Regions from separate parts of the Homo sapiens genome. Here region 1 is linked to region 2. A link means that fine-mapping ties the variant in region 2 to the expression of a gene that starts in the linked region. Tissue or cell type: nasal epithelium. Region 2 holds a variant in brackets; the other region holds the start of a gene. All regions are shown on one strand. Distances are between the middles of the regions.

Region 1 (4,000 bases), 210 kb after region 2:
CATCCTAAATATATAATTGAAACCTCCAAAAGACTTGACTTACTCTCAAAACATAGTTCATGTCAAGGAAGAATAATTCATTAATTATACCTGAGATTTTATCATCAATTGTGGTGTTTCAGACTTGGTACTGAAGCACAGGAAAAATGTTCAGACATGTGAAATGTTTAATTCATTCAACTTATTCCACAAGCATATATTAAGGACCAAGCATATACTATGGACCAAGCTCTGTGTTAAAGGAAGATTATTTTAAAATGGAGAGAACTCGCAATCTAGCAAGAGAAAGAGACATGTGGGTAAATGTCATTTCACTACAGTGATGTGACAAGGACTCTATAAGACATCGAAGGAAAGTGCTGACAGGGTACAGGAAGGAAACTCACACCTCCTCCTCAAAGTGTCAGGGGACGCTTCTCAGAGGAGGTAACACTAGCACTTGGTCTTGAAGAATAAGCAGTGCATGGACTGGCTGGAGTCAGCTCTTCCAGAATGGTCTTCTAACTCTAGCAAGCAAGTTCAGGGGCTTGGCTGCAAGACGTTCACCTTGGGAAGGATGCATCAGAATCTTGTGGCTTGGGCAAGTGAGGGGTGGCAGATGGTGGCATACTTAAAAAATTCAGAGGTAGATGCCTGCTCTTTTGTGGTAAAAACAACAGGCTAGGGGGGATCATGTGAGCTTCTGGGGATACACAAAAAGACACAGTGATCAAGCCCAGTAGGAAGCATGGGTTAATGGTTGAGAACTGAGTCCTAGAGAAACCTCCAATTTCTTCTGACGTTAATTGGCAGTGGAAGAGGTTTCCAAATCCCTCTCTATGCATTTGCATAATAAAAAGCTGCTGAGCTGAGCCCTGTGCTAGGGAAGTTCATTCTTCAATGTGATTTCCAAAGGCACAGCCTTGCATCTCACTGTCTGTGACCTCATTTGCAGGCATATAGAACAGGGGAGTGATTTCAAAGCCTAAACCTTGCAGCCTAGAATCTGCCTTAACTATTTCTAATCACCAACTAAAGTTTACAGGTTTGAAAGAATACAAAGTGCCCAAACCACTATGAATGTGTTTTTGACCCCAGGAAAGCATCTTCCCAAAAGATGCAGCATGAATTTCTAGGTGCGTAGTTTAAGCGGCAACGTGCAGAAAAGCCTACAGATGCAAAATTTTTTTTATTTAAAAAATGAATATGTAGCCTATGCACCAGGTGAACATTAGTTAAAAAATGTGTTTCTCGCAAATTCATCAGTGTGTGACTTTGAACCTTTTTCAAGTTTGTTTTTTCCACCCAGGTGTGACAGATGATAATCCAAAACACACATGCAAAGGTACAGACAACAGCACCTTACCGTTAAAACTCGAGTGACGCTATGCTTCCAGAGCTGTCTCCTCCCAATCCTAAACATTGTAGCCGTGCATGGACAGGCTGGAGTCAGCTCTTCCGGAATGGTCTTCTAACTCCTGGCAGACCTGCTCAACATCCAACAGGCTTCCAAATGGAAAGTTTTACTTCCATTTTACTTTCACGTTTCTAATTTGCATGTATTATTCACTACATTCACAGAATAAAAATTAAAACTCCACTTATACCACTCAAGTTTTTCTCCTAGAGTGTCTGCCCTGGGCCTCTCCTCTCTCTCGAAGCCTGGTGTTGTTAGGGTAATATTGTTTATACACTATACAGTTGAACCATGCCTCTTAATCATGTTTATCAAGCAATCAAAGCATTTTAACTGCTCGGTAGCAACACAACTCCTTCTGTTGTTCAATTAATTCTATTCACTGCCCAATAATAAGCATTGAGTCAACAGTGATATCTAAATAGTTTCTTTGAACAATGAGAAACTTTAAACCATATCAGATTAGAAATCCAAGAAGCCACAGCTCTGAATATATTGTCCATGTCGAGAAACTCAGTCTTACTTTGTGTAAACAACTTTGCAAGCACGATGCACTGCCAGCATTGTGACTAATTGTGACTAATTGCCAGATAGGCTAATTGTGACCCATAGGAGCCATTTTCTCCACCACAAAGAACAAGAAGTCTGTTTCATATGCAAATAGCAAACCATGTCCATAAATTACTTGTGCTCACACAGTTGCACATACACTTCAGCCAAGGTAATTTATCCTATGTGGCTAAACATCTTGATCATCTTAACTGTGAAGATGTAATGGGAAAACACTGCCAAATGCTTTGAGAGATCTCTCATGTATGGTTTCTCCCATCGAGTTGAATAAAAGGCAGGACACTTAAGGTTGGTCTTGTTGAATCTAGAATTTAGTCCTTGGAATTCACAGTCCAGCAACTCAAATCCTAAAAGGTCATCCAAGGATAATCAGGAAATTGGGAACTCATCCTGGTAACATCCTGCTAGTCAACCTCTGTGGAGCCTGACTTGGAAGGCAGGGTGCTGACATGGTTTCAGAACATGGAGATTCACTTGGTCCATATCCAATGCTAGGGCACGGACGGCCTCCATATGTCAGGTTAACAGACAACATTTAGACCTCAATATTATTTGGTAAGTAAATAACTAGAACACAGGAAGTTTAAGTTTGTTTGCAGGATTTTTTTTTTCTTTTTTGAGACCTGCAGGTCTCACTCTGTCACACAGGCTGGAGTGCAGTTGCGTGACCACCACTCACCACAGCCTCAACCTCCCAGGCTCAGGTGATCCTCCCACCTCAGCCTTCCTAGTAACTGGGACTACAGGCAAGTGTCACAACACGCGGCTAATTTTTGTATTTTTTGTAGAAACAGGTTTGGCCACATTGCCCAGGCTGGTCTCAAACTCCTGGCCTCAAGCAATTGCCCACCTCGGCCTCCCAAAGTGCTGGGATTATACGCATGAGCCACCAGGCCAGGCCCTGCAGGATATTTGTTGAAGTCAACCTCTGGTTGTTGGTAAGCGGCTGTTGTCCGTTTCTAATAAAAAGTGTTGAAGACAGTATCTAGACTCTGAGTCCCTTCTCTGTGTGGTGCTGAAGACACCAGAAAATAGCAGTAGGATCGGATCCTCCTCACATGGCATCTCCTATCCATCCCAAGAATCCTCTGTCAACACATGACCTCAGGACAAACATGTTACAATTCATTACATCGCCGATTATCTTTCATTAGTTACATTTGAATCGGTGCTTCCCTAATGGTATTTTAGGCACCATCCTCATTGCAGCAGCAGCCCATTTACAACGCATCGCTTGGGGAGAGTTACTTCCTGGGAAGATTTCCACAGATGGCTGATGGCATGCATTTTGTGTTTGGCAGGCATAACCATGACTCCCTTGAGGCTTCACAGCAAACCGGGAAGCCTTCCAGTCTGTGTGGCTGAATTTCAACCCCTCGGGCAAGGTAGATGGCGTCTTAAGGTATCTTCTTGAGCGCTCAGGCTCACTGGAAGTTGTTGAACAACACAAACAAAGCAAGCCAAGGCTGAATTTACAACAGGCCACCTACCCCCGCCAGCCCCTGCCAGAATGAAAGTCAATTTCTGGCATTTGGAGGGAAATGATCAAACATTGTTCGGTAGGAAACTCAGAAAGGCTTGCCTACAAATAGTTTCCACCAGGCAAGAGCTTCAGCTGGCAGGGCTCTATATATAGGACTCACACGAGGGAGGTCTGCAGCCCCGTCTGTGCGGATAGTACACCCTTCCAGGCTGAAAATATTGGTCATACACAAATCCTGTCAGACATAATGGGAAAACAAGAGTAGACAATGGACCTCATGTGGGCGGAAGGCTTCATCCAGAAATCCAAGTACCTGCAGGCAAAGTTTGAAGTTCCACTTTCATTCATTGAACAAAAGCTCGTGAGTGCCTTTTACGCAGCCAGACGCTGCGCTATACACTATGAATAGAACAGCTAATAAAAACAGATGTTTACTCAGACATTTAAAAATATTAATTGTAGAATGCATAATTATCCTATGCAACACTCGGAATGAAAAAATAATGCTGCCTATTCAACATATCCATTTTAAGGTGCATTCTGATTTCACA
Region 2 (4,000 bases):
TCTGTATTCCTCCCGGGCTGAGTTAATTTGAACTTCTGTCTCAGCAGAAATTTCTAGCTTCTGTGTCACCTCCTCGGCTGTCCTTTTTGTGTTACTCAGCACGACAATGAGACTTTCATCTTCTACCAGGGACCCCTGGGTACTTGTCAGGCGGTAAAGCAAGTTATCTTCTAGTTCCTTCATCCTTCTTTTGTTTGCAGTTACATCTTCCATCAGATGAGTTCTTTCTTTCTCCAATTCCTATTAATTTGCATAAATATATTTTCTACCTCAATTAACAACTCTTGTTGAGTATTCCTTAAGACGTTAACCTACATGGCTGCTTTGAAGCTCCCATACTGTATTTATCATAATCAACTGCAGGAAATATGGACATCAAAAAAGAAGGGCCGGGCGCAGGGGCTCACACCTGTAATCCCAGCACTTTGGGAGGCAGAGGCGGGTGGATCATTTGAAGTCGAAAGTTCGAGACTAGCCTGGTCAACATGGTAAAACCCCATCTCTACTAAAATACAAAAAAAAATAGCTGGGCGTGGTGGCGCATACCTGTAGTCCCAGCACTTTAGGAGGCAGAGGCGGGTGGATCATTTGAGGTCAGGAGTTTGAGACCAGCCTGGCCAACATAGTGAAAACCTGTCTCTACTAAAATACAAAAAAATTATCTGGGCATGGTGGCTCATGCCTGTAGTCCCAGCTGCTTGGGAAGCTGAAGCAGGAGAATCCCTTGAGCCAGGGAGGCAGAGGTTGCAGTGAGCTGAGATCATGCAACTGCACTCCAGCCTGGACAACAGAGTGAGACTCTAACATAAAATAAAATAAAAAATAAAATGTTAAAAAAAAAAAAAAGGAGGAGGAGAAGTAACAGAGGAAGGAAGAATAGGTGCCAAGCAACATGAAACCTGCAAAAAATACTACCAGCATCCCTTTAATCACCCATTTATTTTCTCAAGTCACATCAGTTTCAAGTGATTGCTGTGATTATATTTAATATTATATATATAAAATCTTCTTTTGAAGGGGAAATATATTTGAAGACAAAGATATATATCTCTGATTAAATAGGTTTACTTCTGTCTACTTTCTTAAGAGAGTTCCATTATTGTTTAAATGTGGTTATTTCAAACTTGCTAATTGAAAAAGTATCCAAGTCTGTGAAAAACTACTCTCCGAAATCTTAGGCAAGCAACTGAGCTGCAACTGTGAGCACGTTTAAATTGAAAAGTCTTCTTGGCCTGCTGTTCTCTCCAAAAGCAGAAAAGTTTTGCATCTTTTCTGAGGGAGCTTTGGAGACAGCTGGGAGAGTGAAGCCTTGGAAGACTATTATCCTTATTGGCCTTTTCTTCCTCTTGGCAGCTTGGAGAGGGAGAGACAGAGGAAGAGAAGGACAGAAAAGATGGAGGTGGTGGCAGGGGTGGGAGAAGGAGAAATACGTGTGACACCAAGCAAGCCACAGGAAGAGGAAGCCCAAAGGCAGGGAGACAAAACAGAAATATGCTTCTGGCACCAAGTCAAATTGTACATGGATATCAACTTGCTATATGAGAGACTCTATCTGTGATGCTAAAGAAAAGAATCAAAAATGGAAAGAACAATAAAATGATACGTACAAATTTAAAATGAAACTTATGTATTAGAGAGTTTATTTGAAGAGCTTCCTGGATGTGGAGTCCATTGACAATTTGCCTATGTTTAACTGCGTTTATAATGTACAATTCATTATAAGTAAAATACGGGGAAACCAGGGTTAAGTGCAGGTGACAAACAGCAAAATCACAGGAGCTTTACCTGTGATTTTGACAGTGCGTTTGACAGTTCTGACTGGACTCACGGCAGCTACCTGAACGTATGGTACCAAGCTCACATCTCTAGACCAGCTTCAGAAATCTACATTCTCAATTGGGTACTCTGGATATGACTCAGTAGGTGATATGGTTTGGCTCTGTGCCCCCACTCAAATCTCACCTTGAATTGTAATCCCCACAATCCCCAAGTGTCAAGGGTGGCACCAGGTAAAGGTAATGGGGTCATGAGGGCAGTTTCCCCCATGCTGTTCTCATAACAGTGAGTGAATTCTCACAAGATCTGATGGTTTTATCAGCATCTGGCACTTCCCCTGCTTGTACTCACTCTGTCTTGCCACCCTGTGAAGAAGGTCCCTGCTTCTCCTTTGCCTTCCGCCATGATTGTAAGTTTCCTGAGGCCTCCCCAGCCATGCAGAACTGTGAGTCAATTAAACCTCTTTCCTTTATAAATTACCCAGTCTCGGGTATTTCTTCATACCAGTGAGAGAATGGACTAATACAGTAGGTTTTATAGATTCTACTCCCTATTGAGAGAGCCAGAAATCTAGAGTGA[G/T]GCAGTGATGAATCATATGAAACCATATAAAACATAATGGACTATTCACTGATTACATGATTAATTACACAATTTACCTTTGTTATGATCCGGTATGCACACAGACATGGAGGGAAAGGAGAGGCCAGACCCAGCCCAAACCGTCACTGTTAACCATTACGCAAGTTCTTCCCTTTAGTGGCTCTTACAATTATTCATTTTTAGTACTTAGTTTATGCTTACGAGAAACTTATCCCCATACTACTCCATGAATTACATTTTGTTTTAAACAGTATCGCTATGCTGATGACTCCCAAGTTTATATCTCAGCTTCAGATCATACCTCCTTTCAACTCTCCACTTGGACATCTAAGAGACTTCTCCTACTTAGCACCATCAGCAAAACTAAACGTCTGATCCTCCCTTCAAACATGCTCAACCTCACCCTTCCACAGCCCAGCAAATGGCAACACTATTCTTCTAGATGCTCTGGCCAAAACCTTTGAACCCTGCTTGGTCACTTTCTTCTCCTCAAATTCAACAACAAATTCATTGGCAAGTTCTATGACCTCCACTTCAAAATGAGATTCAGAATCTAATCATTTCTCACTCCCTCCACTATCACCACCCTGGTTTAAACTATCATTGTCACCCCCCTCTAAATTAGGAGGTCTAAACAGGTCTCCCTACCCCAGCCTTACCCCCTGGTCTACTCCCAGCCCAGCAGTCAGAATGATGCTACTAAAACATACTTCCTCTCTCAAAACCCTCCAGTGGCCAATCTTTCCACTCAGAGTGAAAGGTAAAGACCTTACCAAGGCCTATAAGGCTCTACCAAGCTGCCCCCTCCTTCATTACTGCTGGGACTTCATTTCCTACTTTTCTCCCCTTTTTCACTTTGCTCTAGCCACGTTTGCTATTTCCTACATCAGTGGTTTTCAAATTTCAGTGCATTAGGATCACCTGGAAGGCTTGTGCTGTAGGCCTGGAACAGCATCTGGGAATTTGCACTTCTAATCCCATGTGATGTGATGCTGCTATTCCAGGAAACATGCTTTGAGACTCACTGTCTTAAACACACAAGGAACTCTCTTGCCTCAGGGCCTCTGCATTAGCTGCTGCTCTGTCAGGTCTGTTCTTCCAAATAACTCACTCTCTTCCCTTATTCAAGTCTTCCTCAAATGTCACATTCTCAGTAAGCCCCACTGTGACCACCCTCTTTAAAATGCTAGCCCACCAGCTGACTCCCCAGCTCTCCCGCTCACCAGTGTCTGTACCTTTTATGGCATTTACCACCTTCTAACATAATACATAAATTATTTATATGTTATGCTCCAGGGATAGTTTGGTCTGTTAGTCTATTTTGTTCATTGATAAATTCCTAAATTAGTGAAACAAAGCCTGGTACGTAGTAGGCACTCCATTAACACTGCAGATTGAATGATTAAATGTTGCATCTCTTTTCAAATTGATAAACTGAAACACACAGTGAACTGGAAAATCTAGTCTTTGTGCCAGAAATGCAGATGTGGAAATGCTCAATCTCTGAAAACCATGACATTAAAAATAAAGGAGGTGTTAACAAAACTGCATGAAGGCAAACAGCAAAGACCCCTGGCCTCTGCTTTATGTTTCAGCCAGTTAATCACCACTGATTGAATGGTTA

Evidence for each region. PIP is the estimated chance that this variant, and not a neighbour inherited with it, causes the effect.
Region 1: DNAH5 starts here. The variant in region 2 is fine-mapped to the expression of DNAH5 in nasal epithelium (TOPMed, PIP above 0.99).

Annotation. Positions count from the first base shown.
Region 1 is chr5:13,943,037-13,947,036 of GRCh38, forward strand. It overlaps DNAH5 (dynein axonemal heavy chain 5), which reads right to left and starts at 1,652. Exons shown (of 79, transcript NM_001369.3): 1 at 1,346-1,652. The coding sequence starts at 1,402.
Region 2 is chr5:13,737,256-13,741,255 of GRCh38, forward strand. It overlaps DNAH5 (dynein axonemal heavy chain 5), which reads right to left. Exons shown (of 79, transcript NM_001369.3): 66 at 1-240. Among named protein-coding and RNA genes, the nearest start is that of DNAH5-AS1, 120 kb to the right of the region's middle. The variant G/T (reference allele first, on the strand shown) is at 2,356.